2 linked regions of the Homo sapiens genome follow. The protein of the gene in region 1 interacts with the protein of each later gene in a pairwise test. Each region holds a gene or a part of one and is shown in the gene's direction. Other genes may lie near its edges. The genes, in order: PPARGC1B and ZNF200.

Region 1 (3,818 bases):
TTTCCTTGTGAGTGCCAACTGTGATTGATTGGCAGTTGTCACCTGAAGCCCTGCATCAGGGAAAATGCTGGCATGGAAGGAAGCAGCTGTTAGCAATACAGGGGAGCAGTAGCGTGTGCGCCACGCATTTGAAATCTCTCTTCACTACATGGTTCCTGAGAGCCCTTCCGGCTCTGATATTTGTGATAATTCACAATATCTCTGGGCCCTTGGTACTCTCCCTGGGAAAGAGTGAGAATTCTCAGTTCGTGCAGTGCTGATGATGTCATCTCTGAATGACTTCCCTCTAGAATCTGCTCTTTGAGACACTGAACTTAGCCTCCCGCCATTGTTCATTGTTTGGTTCATTCACTCTTTCATTAAGTAAATCTGCCGTGGTGCCTCCCATGTCCCAGGCATTGAGCTTAGGGACCTAAGCACTCTACAAAGCACTCTCATTACTGCTTCCAGACTTGGCCTTCTGGGAGCCCAGGGAGGAAGGCTGGCCAGGGATCATGTCTTCCCATTTCACAGGGAAAGGAGCAAGGCATAGAGGAGGGAAACGACTTGCCTAAGATCACCCTTTTGATGGCAGAACCCCAAGAGTGGTCGCTGAGGCCCAAGTTCCAGGATCTTAACTCTCCATCAAGCTGGACAGATGGTTCTGGGCTGGACAGGGTTGGGAGTCTGGCCTGAGGGTTGAAGGAGACTTGTGGGTAGGGGGTGGGGGCAGCCAATGAGCCCGCTTGCATTCTAAAGCCAGAGTCCTCGGACCCTGATCTACCCTCGGGCCTCCATCCCCAGGGCCTGGGTCAGGCCCAACCAAAATCTTCTTTTGACCTTTCTTTTATTCTTAGCTCTGTTCTAAAAATTACAAACGCGTTTGTTCTCTCCCCGTGTTCCCCCTTCGAACTACTCAGCTGCTGCTCCGGCTGTAAGGCCTGGAACAGATTTAGTGCAGCCAAAAGGCCGTCACGAGACGTGTATTTCAGATGAACTTCCTGCAGAAAGGATAAACAGCCTGACCTGGGATGGGAAAGAGTGCCGGAGGAGGCATCATGTGACAGAATGTGCCTTCTGCCAGAACAGCCCGGGGACCAGGCCTTACTAAATGAGGCGCTCGGTGCCTCACCTAGAAGCCACGTGCTCTCCACACCAGGCCTCTGGGCGTGGGGGCCTGTGGGCTGGGGGAACACACGCCGACCCTCCTTATGGTTCATCTGTGCATGGGGCACTCTTGCTGTCCAAGTCCTGGCTTTGGACGTTATTTGCTATGTGACCCCTGACAAGTTGCTGAGCCTCCAGGAGCCTCTGTGTCCTCAACTGCAAAATGGAGATCAGAATCGTGCGCCCCTGGGCGAGGTTGCTGTGAGGCCTCCCTGAGCCTGACAGAGCCTTTCTACTCCTCTCTTCAGCCAAGCGCTGTGCCTCTGGCCTTTGATTGGGGTTTCCCTCTTCCTGGGTCTCCCCTCCTTAACGCTTTACCTGGCTGGTGTCTTTCAAGCCTACCTTTAAGTATCAGCTGCTCAGAGAAGGCATCTGGGACCACCCTCAAGAGCCTGTAAGTCCTCACCACATTCTTTTTCTCCATCATGGCTTCCTTTTATTTTCTTCCTAGCCTTTCTCACGCTCTGAAATGATCTTGTTTGTTTGTTAGTTTCGTCCCATCCTCCACAGGAGGGTAAGCTCCATGGGAGCGGGGCATGTCATTCTCCACGTGCTGTTTATCACCAGCGTCCAGCATGAAGCCAGGCACAGAGTAGCCACCGGGAAGGGGAAGGAAGGGAGCAAAGAGTGCAGGGGGCAGTTATACTACCACCGCCACCACTGTCATCATCATCATCGTCATGGCAGAAATCGTGTAACAGTAGCAGCACTAGCAGTGGTAGTGGTAGTAGTTACAGTCATCACAGTAGCAAGTGCTTTTATTTTGTGCCAGGCACCATTTTCTAAGCATCTTACCTAAGTTTACTCATCTAGTCCTCAGCAGTAACCTTAGGAAATGTGTGCTGTGTGTTATCCCACTTGATAGATGAGAAAGCTAACTTGCCTGAGAGCCCAGAGGTGCTAAGTATGGGACCTGGGGTACAGCCCCAGCTCCAGAGCCCGAGTGTCTAATCACCATAGTTGCTACCTCCTCAGGAGTGAATGAGGAGAGTAAGCTCTGGGAACCCGCAGAGAAATTATAGCTGCCTCGTCACTGCTGTGGTTATTATTGTCATGGTTGAACCCTGGAGCTTCTGGCCTTCACTCTGCCTGGACCCCAGGGTCTGAGGGGCTGTAACGGGTTGCTGCTACCAGTGTGGTAGGCCAGCCTCTGTCCTTGGTGGGGGAGGTAGGCGTCACTCAGGTGGACAGCCCTGTGCCCAGGTATGTGATAAGCAGCAGAGCCCAGAGTGGGACTCCCAGGCAGGGCCCTTTCCATTGTCATCTACTGCCTGTTCATAAAATTCTGGGATTCTTGGAGTCAATAACACATTTATTGGGCATCTGCTATGCCAGGAATACTGAGCAGCTCTGCTGGGTGGGCAGAGGGGAGGGTATGGCAGGAGGGTGTTGGTGGGCCAGCTGGCTGGGCAGAGCTGGTGTCCACCGTGGAGACTGAGTCTAAGGTGGTGACTAACCATCTCCCCATCTGCCTTTCTGACCCTCCCGCCCTCCTCACTCCAGATTGACAGTGAGAATGAGGCCCTCCTGGCAGAGCTCACCAAGACCCTGGATGACATCCCTGAAGATGACGTGGGTCTGGCTGCCTTCCCAGCCCTGGATGGTGGAGACGCTCTATCATGCACCTCAGCTTCGCCTGCCCCCTCATCTGCACCCCCCAGCCCTGCCCCGGAGAAGCCCTCGGCCCCAGCCCCTGAGGTGGACGAGCTCTCACTGGTAAGAACCTACTTACAGCAGAAGTGATGGTTGCAGCCTGGGATTAGGTTTCTGGTTCAGGGCATGGGGTGCAGAGCAATCCGCTCCAGCCCCGCAGGGGACTCCGTGCATCACTGGCAATATTGATCACAGCAGAGAGCGTGGGCCGAAGGTGGGAGGCCCCCCTGGACTTAACCTTTCCCACCTAGACAGAGGTACTAACGACAGAGGCTTCACCTGCATTCTCTATGCTCTTTGGTACTTTAGGGATTGACCAAGTTACGTGTTAAATCCTTGAAATTACATGCAAAACATTTTCCTGAAGATTGCACACACATGGTAAAAATCCAGGTAGTAAAAGTGGACAGTTAAAAGCAAAACCTCCTTAGCCCTCTCTCTGTTGCTTTTTCCTGTCCCAGAGGTAACCATGGTTACTGATCTGTTATGTGACTTTCCTCTTCTACCTTTTAAAAGATTTTACTACAAAAGGGAGTCTACATTAGGGCTCTGCACGTTGCTTTCACGGTTAACTGTGTGTCTTGGAAGCTCTTCCACATGAGCACGTAGAGCTCTGTTTCATTCTTTGTGTTGGCTGTGTAATGTTCCTTGGTAGGGTTTCACTGGTTCCCCTGTTGGGTATTTGTGTTGTTTCAACTCCTTCCTCATTACAAGCAGTGGCACAGTAACTGTTCTTATACAGGCCTTTGTGACATGTAAATGGACAAATTCTTAAAAATGAAATTCCTGGGTCTGTGGATCTGTGATTTTCCAGTTTAAGCAGATACTTGCAGATTGCCCTCCAAAGATGTTGGACTGGTTTACACTTCCACCAGCAGAAGTTAAATGCGGTGTGAGCGTGTGCGGAATGTGGAAATGTGCACATGGAATAGCAGCTTTCTAGGGAGAACATCAGATTTTATCAGATTTTCAAAGGAGTCTGGAACTCAGAAGTTACTGGAAGCAGTCGCTCTCAATCC
Region 2 (3,818 bases), on another chromosome or scaffold:
TGGGAAAAGCATGTCCTTCATCTCTTTAGCTTTGGGGGACGATTCACACCTGGTAAGCCTATGTGCACACACACATTTTATTTTACTTTTGTTTTATTCAATGTAGCAGAGCCTTGCCACAGAACTCCAGCTGTGGGTGGGTGGCCATTTTTCCCTGTATCTTGGGGGCAGTGAGGGGAGAGGTAGGGAAAACCTGCAGACATAGAAACTGTGGATATAGAAACTGTTCTGAACCCATTTTCTGAACTCTGTTCTCAACAGGTATATTTGAATGTTTTCATTGAACACATGACTAACTCTTGTAATCCCCCTCCCCTTTTTGATGTTCAATAGATGTGAAGACTACTAGCCTAAGTGAAAATATATTCCACTATTGGTGAAAGTAATGTTTAACACTTAATGAGCACTTATATGCTGTTACATGCTAGGCACTAGTCCAAATGCTTTTCATGTGTTTATTCTCTCATGTACTTCTCAGAGTAATACTGAGTGGTATAGAAATTACTGCCACCTTACAGGTGACAGAACTGAGGCAGAGAGGGGTTACAAAATTTGCTAAAGTTCACACAGTTGTAAGTAGGGGAACAGGGATTCGGACTCAGGGAATCTGACATCAGAATTTGCAGTAATGGCCCAGGGCTGTACTGTCTCCTAGATGCATTTCTCATAATTTTGTCAATGAATTCCGTGTATGGTTGGTGAATGGGGCATTCTTTATTTGTCCTCATTTCCCAGTAATAGTTGACAAGTGTCCCCCAGTGCTGTGTATGAACTGATCAAGCAGCAGCCTCTCTATAATTTGCTTAGAGATGCTTTACCTTTTCTCTAGAAATGTTGCAACCCTAGAGGCAGAGGCCCGCACAAATGTCTTTACTGAGTGCCGGACACTTTTTACTTTGCCTTCAGGGCTTTTTGTTTCTGAGGGTGAAGTTGTACAGAGAATAGGTTTTAGAAGTTGCCTGGGGTGACAGAAATCCATTATGACTGTCAAACTCTTAGCTGTAATTATACCGTATGGTCAGAAGTATTGGTATGTAATGAGTGTAGTTAATTTCCCGCAGGTTGCTCTATGTGATATCTTCTTTATTTTAGAGAAAAGGATAAAAAGATCAGATTTATTAACACTGAGTTTTTCCTGAGTCTTGGGCAGAGCTGGCATTTATTTTGGGTGACTGGTTAGTGGATATATTGCCTCCAAGATCACTTCGACTATGCACTTCAGGGCCCCTAAGACCCAATCCTCACCCTCTGTTCCCCACTTCCTCCACCCGTACCCTGAAGCTGGTGGCTTAAGCTTAGTCATTTACCAGCATTTCATAAATGTACTAGTTTTTTCCTCAGGCAGGATTGGGTTCTGGAATTGTATTCATCAGGTTACGAAGATGTTATATTCTTGCCTTTTGTAATCTTCCAATTTGGTTTGTAAGACAAGTCATTCATCAAACGATAAGCAGTGTGAAATTTTTATAGGTATAATGAGCTATCGCAAGACTGAGGTAAGATTTGGACCCGGGGCAGAGTAGTGAAGAAGGTGGAATTGATTTTGGATGAGATTGAATCCATGATGGGAAATAAAATGAGATTATCCTCCAGATATTTGGAAATTGGGGATTGGAGTTCAGATGTGAGGATATAGGGATTGGGGAGCCATCAATTTATAGGTGATGATAATTGAAACAGTAACATTTAACCAATTTTTGCAAAGGAAAAACTATAACGGATTGAACATTGTGGTGGCAGGAATCAAAGAACAGTCCTTGATAACCTAGGGAAACAGAGAATGTGTGTGTTGGCCAAGTGAACCACGTAAAAATAAGGAAAAACGTAGAACACTTAAACAGATTTTCAGTAAGATAATTCTTATTATAGCTACTGTGTGCTGTGATAGGAGAATACACCTTTTCAAGATTGAAGAAAATTGACTAAATACTAGGCAACAAACAAAGACTCAGATTCCAAGGAGTAGAAATAAAGTAGGATCTGTCACAATGCAGTACAACTAGAAATTAATAATAAAGATCAGTAAATTAAAGTTCCTTCCACCTGGAAAATTTAAAACTCTTAAGCAACTGTCTTAGTACATTTTGTGCTGCTATAAAAGAATACCTGAGGCTGGGTAATTTATAAAGAAAAGAGGTTTATTTGGCTCACAGTTTTCTGTAGGCTGTACAAGAAGCATGGCGTCAGCGTCTGCTTCTGGTGAGGGCTTCAAGAAACTACTCATGGTTGAAGGAGAGCAGACTTCACATGGCAAGAGAGGAAGAAAGAGAGTAGGAAGGTGCCAGGCTCTTTTAAACAGCCACATTGTTAGTGAACTAAGAGTGAGAAATCACTTATTATTTTGAGGTGGCATCAAGCCATTCATGAGCGATCTACCCACATGATGCAGACACCTCCGACTAGGCCCCACCTCCATCACTGGGGCTCAGATTTCTCTGTCTTTATTTATTTATTTATTTTTTTGAGACAGAGTTTCGCTCTTGTTTGAATTTGGAAGTTTCCTTCTTTTTTTTTTTTGAGACGGAGTCTCGCTGTCACCTAGGCTGGAGTGCAGTGGTGCGATCTTGGCTTCCTGCAGTCTCCGCCCCCTGCGGTTCATGCCATTCTCCTGCCTCAGCCTCCCGAGTAGCTGGGACTACAGGTGCCTGCCACCTTGTCCGGCTGATTTTTTGTATTTTTAGTAGAGACAGGGTTTCACCATGTTAGCCAGGATGGTCTCAATCTCCTGACCTTGTGATCTGCCCGCCTTGGCCTCCCAACCTTCTTTTTCTATACTCTGGAAATTTTCCTAGCATTTGAATTATTTAATTTTTAAAAGTTTAGAAGAATTTTCTGTGGAACTGTCTGAGGCTGGTGCTTTTCTTGGGTAGGTGGCTAGTCTTTTTTTGATAATTTCAATTTTCTCTATGGAAATTGGTTTATTTTTGCTTAAATCTTACTAGTTTTTTTCTATTTTTAACTCATTACTTTCTAATTGGTATTTATTAATACCTTCATTCTTTTAAATTTATCCTATTGTTTTTCTAACTTTGAATCAGAGGCTTTATTATTCTCATTTTTCTAAATTAATACATGTTTTTACAGCCATGAGCTCTCTTATGAGCATCACTTTAGGTTATACCATAAATTCTGATATACACTTGTCCTTGGTATTCATGGGGGATTGGTTCCAGGACCCCCACTCAGATACCAAAATCCATGGATGCTCAAATTCATTATATAAAATGGTGTAGCATTTACATATACTCCACACATATCCTACCATATATTTTATTTCTAGATCAATTATAATACCTAATACAAAGTAAATGCTACATAAATAGTTGTTATACTAAATTGTTTAGGGAATGACAAAAAAACTGAATATGTACAGACAAAACCATCCTTTTTTTTTCTCTCAAATATTTTCAATCCTTGGTTGGTTGAATCCTCAGATGCAGAACCTATGAATATGAAGGTCTGTATAATGTTTTCTAGAAAAAATATGCAATTTTAATTTGTTTTTACCCCTTTGACGCAAGGTTGCTGATATAGTTTGGATATTTGTCCCCTCCAAATCTCGTGTTGAAATCCAGTCCCCATGCTGGGCACAGTGGTTCACGGCTGTAATCCCAGCACTTTGGGAGGCAAAGGCGGGTGATACCTGAGGTCAGGAGTTTGAGACCAGCCTGTCCAACATAGCAAAACCCCATCTCTACTAAAAAAAAAATATACAAAAGTTAGCTGGGTGTGGTGGTGCGTGCTTGTAATCCCAGTTACTCTGGAGGCTGAGGTAGGAGAATCACTTGAACCCGGGAGGCAGAGGTTGCAGTGAGCTG

What was found.
Region 2: the proteins of PPARGC1B (region 1) and ZNF200 interact in a two-hybrid assay, tested with the Homo sapiens proteins (one large-scale study listed by BioGRID and IntAct).

What each region holds. Positions count from the first base shown.
Region 1 is NC_000005.10:149,824,024-149,827,841, forward strand, and holds part of PPARGC1B (peroxisome proliferator-activated receptor gamma coactivator 1-beta), read left to right. Parts: intron 1-2,649; coding exon 2,650-2,862; intron 2,863-3,818. UniProt on the Homo sapiens protein: Plays a role of stimulator of transcription factors and nuclear receptors activities. Activates transcriptional activity of estrogen receptor alpha, nuclear respiratory factor 1 (NRF1) and glucocorticoid receptor in the presence of glucocorticoids.
Region 2 is NC_000016.10:3,228,563-3,232,380, reverse strand, and holds part of ZNF200 (zinc finger protein 200), read left to right. Parts: intron 1-3,818. UniProt on the Homo sapiens protein: Localizes protein arginine N-methyltransferase PRMT3 to the nucleus.